2 linked regions of the Homo sapiens genome follow. The protein of the gene in region 2 interacts with the protein of the main gene of each other region in a pairwise test. Each region holds a gene or a part of one and is shown on either strand. Other genes may lie near its edges.

Region 1 (6,990 bases), on a different chromosome or scaffold from region 2:
TCCATGGTAGAACATAAAAGCCCCATGTGTTTCAAGTATGATTCTAAGATAGAGGGACCAGTTTCCAAAAACTTTCTTCAATAAAATAAAGATTTTAGGAAAGCGTGACAGGTCTTCAGCGCTTCTTTAAAAAGGTATATATAAACTTAAGACACAAAGCTGCCAAAAATATAAATACAAAAACTAAGTGCCAAAACAGTAAACAGAAATTATTATTTAAATTCTTTGAATGTACGCCATTTCTCAGATTAAGAAACATTCATACAGAGTTTACTAGAGTGTACATCTTGGAGTCAGACAGCCTACATTTGAATCATGTTTCTTCCACTTACTAACTATATGACCTTGAGCAAACTTATGTAACCAATTTGCCCCTCGATTTCCTTATCTGTAAAATGGGGCTAAGTAGTAATAACTTCCTGCGCAATTGGGAGGATTAAATTAGGTGACACATGTAGTGATAATGGTGATAATTTTTTATAAAAATCTGTCTAATTCCAGGTAATTTTATAATTTTTTTTTTGAGGACTTACTGTGTCCCAGGCTCTTAGAACTTAAATTATAGAGCTAAACTCAGTGCCTGACGCATGGTAAGAACTCAATAAATATTATCATATTTGTCTCATGATTGGTCCCTTTATCAGTCTCTAGGCAAAGAATATGAAATGAGCTTATCAGGAGCTCCCAGAACTACATCAAGGACTAAATCATAGATATCATAACCTAAATGATAGTTCCTTTTATATTATCTGTGGATTCTCAACATGACACCCCTGACCTTTCTAAAGGAAAACAAATGACATTCTCCCAATAATCACCATATCTAGCCCCTTCTTCCACTCTGAGAAATTTACAATTCTTTAAAACTATAAGCGCACAGACTCCTAACTCTTTTGCAGGGAAGAGAAGGATTATGTGATTTTTTAGAATGGCAAAAAATGAGTTTCACAAATAACTAATATCACACAGTGCTTCAATGCAAGTCCTGGAAAACCAAAGGTCAGGGGTCACAATTCAAGGATAACATGTTCATCAGACACAGTGGTTTTTCAGCTCATAACCCTCTCCAGTAGCCAAAATGCACTGCCTTCTCTGTCACTCCACTGTAGGGTGAGCCATTAGTCCGAACATAAGGAGTATAGCAACTTAATCACTCTGGGCTTTAGATTCCTTATGAAGTGAAATGAAGTAACCTCTAAGACCCTTTCTAATACCAAATCAATGGTCTCTCCTAAGATAACAGATAGGGGTGCCTGACCAACATGGACAAACCCCGTCTCTACTAAAAATACAAAATTAGCCGGGCGTGGTGGTGCATGCCTGTAATCCCAGCTACTCGGGAGGCTGAGGCAGGAGCCTCGCTTGAACTCCAGAGGTGGAGGTTGCGGTGAGCCGAGATGGCGCCATCACACTCCAGCCTGGGCAACAAGAGCCAAACTCTGTCTCAAAAAAAAGATCCGCAGACTACTCTTGCAAAGATCATGGGGGATGACCGGAGGATTTTAACCCTGAAAAAATTAGGGAAGAGAAGAGTTCCATTCAAAAATGTCTACTCACCAGACGATCCTGGCAGAGTCTGCTCCCAATGGTCTTCATTCCATGCTTTTCTAGAGGTGGTTTTGCCGCAATACCTTTTGTCCGTGTCCAAGAGGGAGGCTGATGCCAGTTTTCTAATGCTACCCACTACTAGGAAATCACCTTCCCCATCTTCCCCTTCATCAAACCTGTCAATCACCCTGGCAGCAGTGGCTGTCGGGGGAGAGGGAAAAGTAAACAGAATCTCCAGGTTAGCAGAAACTTTAACGGGAACCCTGGTCGACCCATTTATCTCATAGTTGAACGTCCTTTACGAAATCCCCACCAACTTCCAGGAATAGGAAATTCACTCTCTCCCAAAGTAGAACACTGTCTTACTGCTGTTTCTAAACAGAAAGTTGACTCCTGGCATCTACTAGTGGGATCTATTTCTATGACTTGGATCCTATCAAACTAGTTGAATTCCTCTTCAATGTGTGACAGTCGCTCCAATATCTTAAATCAGTCATCACGTTCTCCCCTCACTCTGTCCCATTCTTTGGGGAGTTTTCTTTGCTTATTCTGGCTAAACAGTCCCGAGTTTCTTCAACTGATCTTCCTAAGATACGGTTCAGCACTCGCATTTATCCCTCCTTATTATCCCTTTCTCACACTTCCGACTCAAGTCTAAAGCGGGATTACTCCCAGCTAGACTCTGAACATCAGCTTACAGAACAGGAGTCTCAGTCGTCAGCCACTGAACAAGTGTCTTGAGACTTCAAGAGACTTAAACAGCACCAGAAAATCCTTCCATCAGTCTCCAACTTAGTTTTGAAGGGCAACCTGAATTAAAAACATGCGACTTTCTTCTCCTCCTTTCTAACGCAATACCAGAAAGGGCATCCTCAAAGCTAACTTCCAACTTGCTAGCAGACTCTCTGGCTCCCTCCAACAGGCCTGGAGCAAGTAAACCTGAAGACCAGCTCCTCTCGGCCTGAGCCCTCGATCTGTTCCGCCCATCCAGCCGAGCACCAAGTTTCGAGTGCGTGTGAAAAGAAGCCGAAGCCCTCCTCCCGAGGCCGGGACCACCCTCGCGGGAGGCGACGTTCCTCTGCGCCAAGCGAAGGAGCGCAGGCCCGGCGGCCTCGCGCACGCCCCTCCCACGCCGCCCCCTTGCCCCACAGGGCCTGGCCCACCGCTCCGCACGTGGCCTGCCCCAGTCCGGCCTCACCTTCCTCGGGGTCCGCTTCAGGGTCCGCCTCGCTTGGTCGCGGGTTCAACAACTGTTCCAGTTGCAGCGCCAGGGGCTGCGGCCCCGCCATCGTCACCAGCTCCCGGTCCACTCCGCTTCGCGCACGTAAATGTGCGGCCCAACCCCCGGCCCCGAAGCTCCTTCCCTGCCGGATCCTCTCGCCTTGATCCGATTCCCCGACTCCGCCAGAGACCGCGCGGAGGCCACCCCACAGCTCTGGACCGGCCACTTCCGGGAGGCGCGCGGGAGGGGGCGGGGCCTGCGCGTCACTGCGGGCGTTGCTAGCATGAAGGCGGAAGCGCGCAGAAGGTTGAAGGGATTGGAGCCGTATGGGCGCGTGTGCGCGTGCGCGTGCGAGTGCGCGGGAAGGGGCGGTGCGGAAGCGCGCCAAGGCACGTGACCGCTTCTGTCGCTGAGATGCGATTGCGATGCGCGCGGCCAGTGTCCCCTTGTACAAAATATGCCTCGAGATTTGTGCGAGATTCGCTTAGGAATAAAGCATAGCGTAGCCGTGGCCCACGGTGGCTGATTTGGGAAGGAGGAGGGAGTAGGGCTTAAGCTGCTCGAATCGCGGGTGCGCACTCGGGCACGCAGAGACTGGGACCCAAAGCAGGTTTGTCATTTCGCAATTTATAGTAGTCTGAGGCCGGGCACACGCCTCCCGCCCTTCAGCGGCCAGGATTTGGGAATCCTATGTCAGGGATATGCACGTGTAAGTGTGTGGCGGACTGCTGGCGTCTTTCTTAATGGGAATACTTAGGAATCGCTGTGGCTAAAGATAGTTTCAGTAGCGTCTCTAAGTACCCTTGCCTGAGCAAGGGAAAGGGGGTGGGGTGTGGATTACTCCACTGCATACCCCTCGGTATTGATTATCTTTGCTGTTCAGAGATGAGGGCATGCTCAGGCAGCTTAAGCAGGTGCACAAATGCAGAAAAATACAGGTCTACCGTTAGAGGGACAGACTCAAAATATAAAGACTTAATAGTATAAATGTAATTGCACCCCGCACACGGAAAGACACAATCGCTTTACATCCTCTTTCCTTCATCAAGCATTCCCTGACTGCCCACTATGTGGCAGGCACTGCTAGATAAGATACAAGATAAGTAAGTTGGATTCTCCCCCCCACGGTAATCAGCCTAGGAGGGTAGACAAACATGTAAACAGAAACTGCAATAAGGGATGATAAGTGTGACTACAAAGTGGTCTATTCTTATGGTATCTGTTGGAGGTTGCCTGTAGAGACCTAGACCCCTCTAAACAGAATCTGCCTCAAAAGGATCCAGAAAAGAGATGTTAGTGGTGCACTGTGGCAGTGCCCCTTGGGTACAGCCCGGGCCAGTTGGATCCCACAGCTGAACAACTGGGGAACCCTCAGCTCTCTACTGTCTCCCATGAAAACCAAGGGAAGAGAGGATCTCTGACTTTCACAATCTTCATATGTCCTCAGGGCCAAGAGCAATAAGAGGACACCACTTTAGTGGAGCCTGTTCCATGTCCCTGTAAAGTGGCCCTTGAAGAATGAAGACAACCAGGGCTGCAGAGGGGAAGGAGAACCTGTCTGAGGGTAAACCCCCTCAGACATGGAAGGAAAAGAATGCCAGGCTAGGCAGGGCACTCAGGAGAAGAAAACGGCTTTTTACCATCCATAAGAGAGCTTAGCCTAAGAGAACAGTTTTTCGTTTATCCTCTATAATTGCAGTCTTGTGCCTGTGTCCGGGCCTCCCAAGCAAAAGTGTGTTCCTTGCTCCTTGACAAGGTGCCATGGGGCTTCAAAGGACAAAAATGTTTCTCCCACCCCACATTTAAGAAACTACCTCCTGCAATCCTATCCCCTTGCTATGTTGGGTACTTACAATGCTTAGAAACCTGGCCTTTGAGGTAAAGAGAAGGAAGAAAAGAGAAAGGGAGGTGAGTCACTGCAGAGACCACCTCTAAGCTGTCATGCAAACAGGACACTGCTGGTCAATTTGGGGGCTGTGCTGGGCAAACACTCAGCAGAAAATGCCATAGACCTGTTTACTTACTCTCCCTTCTCTGTCCTGGTCCCTACTGACTTGGGAAGCCATTTTAGCAAGGAATCAAGACCGTTCTACTGTCACACACATCCCAGGGCCCCCCAAAATGTTTGCCTGACCTTATACTGAAGGTAGAAAGAGGACTCCAGGAGTGGAGGGAAGAGGAAGTAATTCTAGGAATTAAGATGCAACTGAGAGTAGTTGAGGCAAGGGACAGGGGAGCAAATTCTCAAATACTCCCTCTGGGGGCCTCTCCCTACCTGCATTCCAGTGTCTTGAGATGGTGGGGGAAGGGCTTATTGATGGGGTAGGGATGGAGATGGAGAGTGGACTGTGGCGAGGAGTTTCAACCTCTGACTGATGTAGAGATGAGAGCAGATGAGAGGAACAGGGAGAGGAGAATAAGGGTGAGCAGTTCCCTAACAGAATGGCCTTCTCCAGAGAAGGCGGAGGGGCGCCCAGTCCACAATCCCTCTCCCTGCCCTCCAAGGGCTGCAAAGTGGCAGGCGATTAGGCACAGCAGAGGATGGGCAAGGGGTGACACTTTCCAATTGTCCCAAACAACTGTCTGCTCACTTGACAAGGAGTTTCAAGAGTTTGGGAAAACCAAGTTCCCACTTGCCTCTCTTCAGATGCTGTCCACCCTCAGGTGCCAGCCCTGGCAATGCCTATCCTGGCTCTCCACAGGTAATACTTCCCCAAGTGCCTCACCTAGAGCAGCTTACCAGCGGCAGCCAGCCCGGAGAAGTTGGGTGGGTGAGCTTCAGCTCCCTCGCCAGAGCAGATGGTGGCTCCCTGCTGCTGGAACCCTGAAGGCAGGTGGCGAGAGGCACAGAGGTGGTGGCTTTAAGATGGCCACAGGGAGAAACCAGGCTGCCCTCCCAGGCGAGAGGGGACTGCAGTGGCGCTTCCCTCCTGCTGCGCCTCCTGCGGGAGCTCCGCCTAGGTATGGTGCCGCACGTCCCCGCACCTCGGGGCCAGAGGTGGGCGGCACAGCACTGATGGGAAGGAGAACAGGCCCTGACATTTCCAGGCCTCCTCCTTGGGGCCTTCGGCTCCAAATTTGACTGCTGAGCGTTGCCACCTGTTCGGGTTTTCGCCAGGATTCTGAATCCCGCGACGAGGGGAGAGACTGCGCCACAACCACGTTGTTAGAAGAATCGAATCCACATCGTGTGCCCAACTCGAAAACGCTTCTTATCAAATACCCCGATTGCACAATAAAGCTGCTAAATAATTCAGCAGCCTTGATAGGAAAATGCAGCTTCCCAGTGAGCGCAGTTCATTTAAATGAATGTCTTTAAAGGGGGCTAGGGAGTAGAGGCTATAATGAATAAGTTAGCTAGGATTTAATGTGTATAAATGCTAAAAAGGTAAAAACAAGCCGATCCAGTGATTGCATATAAAGCAAATAAAGAAATGTGCTGCATGCAGAGGCTGGGAGTTTCAAAAGTCTCCTCTGTATTTCATACATTTTTATTTCTGAAAGAACACTGCCAGATTCCTCCCGGATAGCCTCCTCCCCCATTAGATAAGCCATCATATGGATGCAGTGAAATATTGCTTATTTTAAAGCCTTCTCTGCAGGAAAGATAAACTTGGCTGTGTCTTAACAAAATTTGAAAACAGCACTGGAAATTATATACCATTTAATGTCAAACCTTTGACTTTTTAAATAAGGAAATAAATAATCCAGAGTGAAATCTAGGTGATATGGAAAAGAAATCCTGGAACTCTAATAGCATCTGATACTGAAACACACACACATCCACAAGAATATTTCATAGTAGATAAAATATTCAAATTTCTTCCAAGTCTAATGAAGGACTGGAAAGAATCGAGCTACTTTTAGAACCTTTTGAGTTGAAATTTGATTTTGATATTAGTTATTTTTGTTCATCTTTCAGAGAAACTTAATATGTATCTTGTGCCAGGCAAAATAGTTTTCCTTCTGGGGAACTTCAAAGGTAACAAATACTATAAAACAACAATTTCATATCAGTTCTGTGAAAGGGATTAAAGTATTTCATTTCTAGCTGTACTATACATTCATTTTACATTATCTTTCAAACCACCAAATTAGAAAGCCTTTACATTATCTTTCAAACTACCAAATTAGAAAGCCGGATTATCTATAGGAAATGAAATGAAACTGAAAAGGACCACCTCTAACTATGTATTACAAGTATCTGATACAAGCCCAGT
Region 2 (8,003 bases):
ATACTTGTATTTACCCATAGAATATTTGGCCTAAATATCTTAGGACAAAAGCTCAATATATAAAAACAGATAATACCAGAGTTTTCCAGTTAAGTAGGGATGAGAGATCCAGAGTTGTTCTTCCACATTGCCCCCAACCAGTAATCCCTGAGAAGGTTCTACCAGACCTTCATTTGAAAACTACAATATTTTAATTGTTGTTGTTTTGTTTTTTTCAGATGGAGTCTTGCTCTGCTGCCCAGGCTGCAGCACAGTGGCATGATCACGGCTCACTGCAACCTCTGCCTCCTGAGTTCAAACAATTCTCCTGCCTCAGCCTCCCGAGTAACCGGGATTACAGACAGGCACACGCCACCATGCCCGGCTAATTTTTGTATTTTTAGTAAAGATGGGGTTTTGCCATGTTGACCAGGCTGGTCTCGAACTCCTGACCTCAGGTGATCCATCCGCCACAATCTCCCAAAGTGCTGGAATTATAGGTGTGAGCCACCTTTTCTTCTTAGCCTGGCCTTTTTTTTTTTTTTTTTTTTTTAAGACAGTCTCACTCTGTTGCCCAGGCTGCAGTGCGATGGTGCGACCGTGGCTCATGGCAGCCTCGACCTCCTGGGCTCAACCGATCCATTCACCTCAGCCTCCTGAGTAGCTGGGACTACAGGCACACACCACTGCGCCCAGCTAATTTTTTTTTATAGAGATAGGTCTCACCACATTGCCCAGGCTGGTCTCAAACCCATGGGCTCAAGCAATCCTCCCACTCTGGCCTCCCAAAGTGTTGGGATTACAGGCGCATATTTCAATTTTAAGATGCACATGGTTTTCATATTTTAACATCTCTGAAATCAGGATGCATGTTTCAGTCACTGGCATCTTGGTATTATGTCATAAGCAATTTTTTTTTTTTTTTTGAGACAGGGTCTTGCTCTGTCACCCAGGCTGAATGCAGTGGCACAATCACAGCTTACTGCAGCCTCAACCTCCCAGGCTTAAGCAATCCTCTGGCCTCAGCCTCCTGAGTGGCTAGGACTACAGGCACATGCCATCATGCCCGGCTAATTTTTAACTTTTGTAGGGTCTCACTATGTTACCCAGGTTGGTCCCGAACTCCTGAGCTCAAGCGATCCTCCAGCCTCAGCCTCCTGAAGTGCTGGAATTACAGGCATGAGCCACCATGCCCGGCCTGTCACATTTTTTCTTAATATATACAATAAGTGATATGTCCCAATTAATAAGTGTCTTAGATTAGATGAAATCTGAAAGTAACTCCTCAGTTGGCCTACAGTAATCTTCAGAGTGACTTTTCCAGTCTTATTTCCTACCCCCAACACACATAACACAGAAAGTACATCCTATCACAAAAATGACTTACTCCTTTCCCTTATCACCATACTTTCAGGCCTTTGTGCCTTTGCACATGTTCCTTCTTTCTGTCCCTCCCATTTATTCCTCAAAATCCTATCACCTCCTCTGGGAAGCCTGTCCTGAATCCCTCTGCTCTTCTGGCAGTTAATTAATCCCTCTCTTTGGCTGGAGACTCATAACTCTGTAATGTGACTGCTACTATTAATACTTACATCTATTGCTTTGCTTTGTCTTCCCTCTAGACTTCAGCACAGAAACTGGATCATATTTATGTTTGAAGCTCGAGCACTTAGGATATATAAGACACAATAAACATACAATGAAAGAACTACTGAGAACATTAAGTCAGGGGATGCTTACTGTTTGAGTACATCTTACCTTTTCTGTAGGATAGGCACCAGCTTGAACTTTTTGTGTCAGTGATTTCACTTGTGCAGTTACAGCCATCACCTGAAATTAGCCCAAATAAAACAAGTGATTAGATTATATCAAATTATGTCTGCAAACTGTGAAGAGCAAAAGCTAAACAATGCCACCTAAAAATTATCTGAAACACTGTCTAAAGTATAGTACTATCTTCTCACTTCTCGGAAAGCATAGGAGAGATGGTTCTTCAAAAAGTTTAAAAAAAAAAAAACTTTCCACTTCTTAAAGAAGAGACCATCTTTTACTGAACCACAGGGAGGAGAAAAGGACTGAGAGAGTAGTGACTGAAGCACTGTAATTTTGTTTGTACTAGTTGAACTTACAATGCATAGAACTACATAACTCCCCGACTTATGACTTAATTTCCACTTTACGAGGGTGTAAAAGAAATATGCATTCGGTAGAAACCGTCCTTTTCTCGTGATGCTGGGCAGCGGCATCAAGCCTAAATTTCGACTTATGAGGTTTTCGAATTACAATGGGTTTATCAGGCCATAACCTCCATCGTTAAGTCGAGAAGCATCTGTATATAAGTGTGTATTACCTGGGCACCCAAAGGGCAAGTCATGTTACCATTCCAAGCACTGGTTTCCTTAGCTATATGAATAAAGGAAAACTATTCATATAATTTCTTTTTGGAGTTTCTTGTATTCCCTTGGGTGCAGAATCAATTACTTAGAATTCTGGCGTGAAAAGGTTTTGATTACATCATTTTACTCTAAGGTTTTTGGAAGCATTCACGTATCTCAATCACCAAAGTTTTGAGGTGAAGTACACAAACTCAAAGCCAATCCGTGACTAATTTATTCCAGAGGCGACACTACTCACTTGCTCCTGGAGATTTTTCAGAAGTGTCACGGCACTTGGCAGGTCGGACTCCAGCACCCCCTACAGAAGGGAGAGGAGGCGTAAAGAAAAGTCATTCTTTCCTCAGGATTATAGGAAAGTGGAACGTCTAGGGTGGGAAACTGCCCTCTCTCCGTCAGACACCCAGACTCGGGGCCTTCACACTCGGGTTCACAGACTCGCCTTAAAGCCAGCCCCTTGGGTTACCGGACAGGAACGGTAACTCTAGGGAGGCCGCCTCCCTGAAGCAACTTTCATCACCACCCTTCCCTGGTACCAACAGTTTGCCTCCAGCCGCTGAAGGCAAAGGACAACTCCACAATAGCTACGCGAGGAAGAAACCACACCAAACTCACCAGCGCCGCCATCTTCGCAAAGCCCACCCCTTCCGGTGTCGTACTTCCTGAGCGCTAAGGGCGACTTGATAGATTTGATAGACAACTGCCGCTTGCAAATCTAAGCCAATACGAATAAGGGCTTTCTCACTTCCGCCCCCAACAGGATAAACGAGAGGAGGAGTCTGATCTGGCCAATGGAATAAAGGAACTGGCTAAATTCGTCAGACTCAGAAAGAGTCGTCAGGACGAAAAAAAGCACTTGGCAAAGAGCGTGTGATTGGTAGACTGAGTAAAATGATTGACGGCAAGCCAATAAGAGACAGTCAAATAATTGATTGACAGTTGGAAGGACCAATAGAAAAAAGGAATTAGCAGAGCGAACTTAGCGCGTATTGGCTCCCGTCTGCCGCAGCACCCAGAGTCTTTTTTCACGGCACTTTTCTTGTAGTGCGTGAACCGGCCGCTAGGTGATGGGCCTTGGCTTGGCTTTGCGGTGTCGACATTGCAGAGCCGCCATTGCTGGCTGCTCATCCAACGGCCACCGCGCCAAATGCCTTACAGACCCGGTGGCCCTGGAATCGATTCTGTAACACTACTCCTTGTGTGACCGTGGACAAGTCACTCGGTCTCTGAGCCTTCTTCATCTGTAAATAAGAGAGCGAGGCTAGAGAAGCCCAGAGCCAGAGTTTAGAAACCGAGTGCGAGGACACCTGCCCTCTTGGTGTGCACTGTGGAGCGCTGAGAAACGGCTCCAATAACGCCCCGACACTCTTCGCTCCTACCAGTTTGGGGACATGAAAAGAATACGTTTTACAAATTGGGGAACGGTTCATATTTACATGACTTACCGCGGTCACACAGGTCTTCAGCAGAACTTGGTTCAAACTCTGGCAGTGCATGTTTCAGTATAACCTGCCTCATCATTACCCAGTGCTTTCAGATGTGTTCTCTCACTCTGGTTTTTCACAAGCTGGTGAAGTAGGTTGGACGGATACTCATTGTTCCCATCCCATGCCTTAGGAAATAAAGCACCGAAAGGGTGAATGATAGTGTATAATTTTTTGTTCACAACTCGTCCAACAGAGCTGGGTCTAGAAATCAGATCTTACCGACTTGAAGCTGTCTTTTGGAATTAAGAATAACACCTGTATCTGGGCAGGTGAGGTAAGGAAATCCTGGTATCTAGATCTTGCTGGATTCAAGAAGGCAGGAGGGTGTTCAGTCCCCACTCCTCTAACATTTAATTTGCTGCTTCAGGCCCACTGTGGAAGCTCAGGATGCTGTTGCAGCATACTTAGTCAATTATCCAGTAGCTTTTGTAATGTTTTATCAAGATTTGTATTATGAAAAGTTTCTATTTCTACATAAATTTTCGGACCTGTCTAATTAGATCAGCAATAAACTTTTCCTTTTCGGGGAATTTGAAATTTAGTTTGTTCATATGCTTTATGATAGCAATGAGAAAACAAATTGCACTGCCATATTTTGGGTTTTTTTGAGACCGAGTCTCGCTCTGTTGCCCAAGCTGGAGTGCAGTGGCGCGATCTCGGCTCACTGCAACCTCCGCCTCCCGGGTTCAAGCGATTCTCCTGTCTCGCCCTCCCGAGTAGCTGGGACTACAGGCACTTGCCACCACGCCCGGCTGATTTTTTTTTTTTTTTTTTTTTTTTTAGTAGAGACAGGGTTTCACCATGTTAGCTAGGATGGTCTCGATCTCCTGACCTCATGATCCACCCGCCTCAGCCTCCCAAAGTGCTGGGATTACAGGCGTAAGCCACCGCGCCCGGCCTTTTTTTTTTTTTTTTTTTTTGAGCGGAGTCTCATACTGTTGCCCAAGCTGGAGTGCAGTGCCGCGATCTTGGCTCACTGCAACCTCTGCCTCCCTGTTCAAGCGATTCTCCTGCCTCAGCCTCCTGAGTAGCTGGGATTACAGGCACCCGCCACCATATCCAGCTCATTTTTTGTATTTTTAGTAGAGACGGGGTTTCTACTAAACCATGGTTGGCCAGGCTGGTCTCAAACTCCTGACCTCACTATCCACCTGCCTCGGCCTCCCAAAGTGCTGGGATTACAGGCATGAGCCACTGCTCCCGGCCTTGATTATTAAAATAATTGTCCACCAGGAACGGTGACTTGAACCTGTAGTCCCAGCTACTCTGGAGGCTGAGGCAGGAGAATCACTTGAGCCCATGTCAAGGCAGCAGTGAGCCATGATCGTGCCACTGCACTCCAGCCTGGGTGACGGAGCAAGACCCTATCTCTAAAAAAAAGGTGAAAGAGGGAGACCCCATCTCTAAAAAAATAAAATACTTGTCAACTATAGGGGCAGAAAAGTGTGATACCTTTCCTCACCCATCATAAGGGTCATAGAAGACACTCCTATAACAAAAGAAGTTAACAAGAAAAAAGTTTGATGAATTTATTGAAAGTTTTACATGACACGGGAGCCTTCAGAAATGAAGATTCCATTTTTATGGTTAGGTTTGATGAAGAATGGACAGCGTGTAGAAATGTGATAGGACAAAAAGAGTATGATCTGACAGAACTAGACTGAGGGGGGAATCCCAGCAAGGCCTGTCTGTTCAGATTTTTCTTAGCCTCTCTAGATAGCAATCCTTTGGGGTATAGGGAATGCGAAAGGAAAATAACTTGGGACCCCAGTTCACTATGCCAAAAGAAAAAAATTAAGCTCAACGGAGTCATGCAAGCAACTGCCTTTGCTATTGTTCCTAAGCGGATAGCTACAGATAAAATGTTAAATATCTCTACAAGTATTTACTGTGTGTTCACCTTATCTTGTGTGCCGATTTACTGAGCCTGAGACAAATACCAATTGACTATTCCCCTACCTGCTCCTTTTCTCTTGCAACATGTGGATTAATGTACCCTCCCTCTTTCTCCTCCAGCCTACTTTTCCCCTTTTAATAGTGAAGCCCTGAAAGTCATCTTTGGAGAAAGGCACAAGCCTCACTCCCAGACACGTCCTTAATCTTGGCAAAATAAACTGCTAAATTGATTGAGACCTGTTTCAGATACTTTCTGGTTTACAGGGAGGACCCCTCCAAAATGAGGATTTATGACTGACCATCAAATGAGGAAGTCAGAGAATATTTTTTACGGCTAGCTCCTAGCAGAAAGGTGAGAGAAATTTAGAGTAAAATTTTTAGGTTTTATGGCTGGTTTGGGGGACAGAGCTTCCAGTTTTTTTGTTGTTTTGTTTTTGTTTTTGTTTTTTTTGAGACGGAGTCTCGCTCTGTCACCCAGGGTGGAGTGCAGTGGCGCGATCTCAGCTCACTGTAACCTCTGCCTCCTGGGTTCAAGCGATTCTTCTGCCTCAGCCTCCCAAGTAGCTGGGATTACAGGCATATGCCACCACGCCCAGCTAATTTTTGTATTTTTAGTAGAGATAGGGTTTCACCGTATTGGCCAGGTTGGTCTCGAACTCCTGACCTCGTGATCCACCCACCTCGGCCTCCCAAAGTGCTGGGATTACAGGCATAAGCCACCACACCCAGCCCTGGGGTTCCAGTTTTTAAAACCTGCATTAGGGAAGACGAATTCTAATTTTTTTTTTCTTTTTTTTTTTTTTTTTGAGACGGTGTCTTGCTCTGTTGCCAGGCTGGAGTCAGTGGCGCGATTTCAGCTCACTGCAACCTCCACCTCCTGGGTTCAAGCAATTCTTCTGCCTCGGCCTCCTGAGTAGCTGGGATTACAGGCATGCGCCACCACGCCTCGCTAATTTTTTTTTGTATTTTTGGTAGAGTCGGGGTTTCACCACATTGGCCAGGCTGGTCTCGAACTCTTGACCTTGTGATCCACCGGCCTTGGCCTCCCAAAGTACTGGGATTACAGGCATGAGCCACCACGCCCGGCCTTTGTTTTTTGTTTTTTAGACAGATTCTCGCTCTGTTGCTGAGGCTGGAGTGACTGGAGTGCAATGGCACGATCTCTGCCCACTGCAGCCTCTGCCACGATGCCCGGCTAATTCTTGTATTTTTAGTAGAGATGGGGTTTCGTCACATTGGCCAGGCTGGTCTCAAACTCCTGGCCTCAAGTGATCTGCCCACCTCAGCCTTCCAAAGTGCTGGGGTTACAGGTGTGAGCCACCACGCCCAGCCAGAATTCTAGTTTCTATGGCTTGCCTTGCAGCAGAAGGAAGGGCAGCAGACAAGAGGGCAGGAGAAGGTCAGAGAAAGACTTTGCTTCTGAGGCTGCTTCTAAGGCCTTCCAATCTCCTTTAGTTCAAAGTGCTTAGCATGCCAAAGTGCCATACTCTGGAGTATCGTTTTCTGAGCCCTGACACAATCATTCCTTTTGTTACAAGAGAATCTTGGAGCTAACAGTACAATAAATCTTTGTAAAGCTCTTCTACCACTCAACCAACAAGCATTGGCAAAGAATACAAGATCATTAAATTTATTGTCTTCTATTTCTTTCAACAGTTTCATAAACTGGCAATCGTCCATAATATTTCAAGTATATACTGAGAAAAGTTTTTAACAGCTATATTGAGATTTAATATACATATCATACAATTCACTATTTAAAGGATACAGTTCAGTGGGGTTGGGCATGGTGGCTTGCACCTGTAATCCCAGCACTTTGGGAGGCTGAGGCAGGAGGATCACTTGAGGCCTGGAGTTTGAGACCAGCCTGGGGAGCATAGTGAAACCCATCTCTACAAAAAAAAAAAAAAATTGTTTTGATTTAAAAAATCATAGAATTCAGTGGCTTTTAGTATATTCACAGAGTTGTGCAAATATAACCATAACAATTTTAGAACATTTTTACAATGTTCCAAAAAAAACCCAGTATCCATTAGTAGTCACTTCCCCTTTTTTTCCCAACCCTCTAACCCTCAGCTCTAGACAACCACTAATCAACTTTGTATCCCTGTAGCTTTGTCTATTCTGAACATATCCTTAATGTGGAATTATGTAATGTGTAGTCTTTTGTGACTGGCTGCTTTCACTTAGCATAATGTTGTCAAGGTTTATCCATATTGTAGTGTATATCACTACTTTATTCCTTTTT

What was found. Proteins that work in one complex are often made in the same cells at the same time.
Region 1: the proteins of NGDN (region 2) and AATF interact in binary tests that used the Homo sapiens proteins (3 or more experiments, as listed by UniProt).

The regions. Positions count from the first base shown.
Region 1 is NC_000017.11:36,944,973-36,951,962, reverse strand, and holds the start of AATF (protein AATF), read right to left. Parts: upstream 3,010-6,990; 5' UTR 2,838-3,009; coding exon 2,747-2,837; intron 1,750-2,746; coding exon 1,558-1,749; intron 1-1,557. UniProt on the Homo sapiens protein: Part of the small subunit (SSU) processome, first precursor of the small eukaryotic ribosomal subunit.
Region 2 is NC_000014.9:23,464,712-23,472,714, reverse strand, and holds the start of NGDN (neuroguidin), read right to left. Parts: upstream 3,013-8,003; 5' UTR 3,000-3,012; coding exon 2,988-2,999; intron 2,674-2,987; coding exon 2,614-2,673; intron 1,810-2,613; coding exon 1,738-1,809; intron 1-1,737. UniProt on the Homo sapiens protein: Part of the small subunit (SSU) processome, first precursor of the small eukaryotic ribosomal subunit.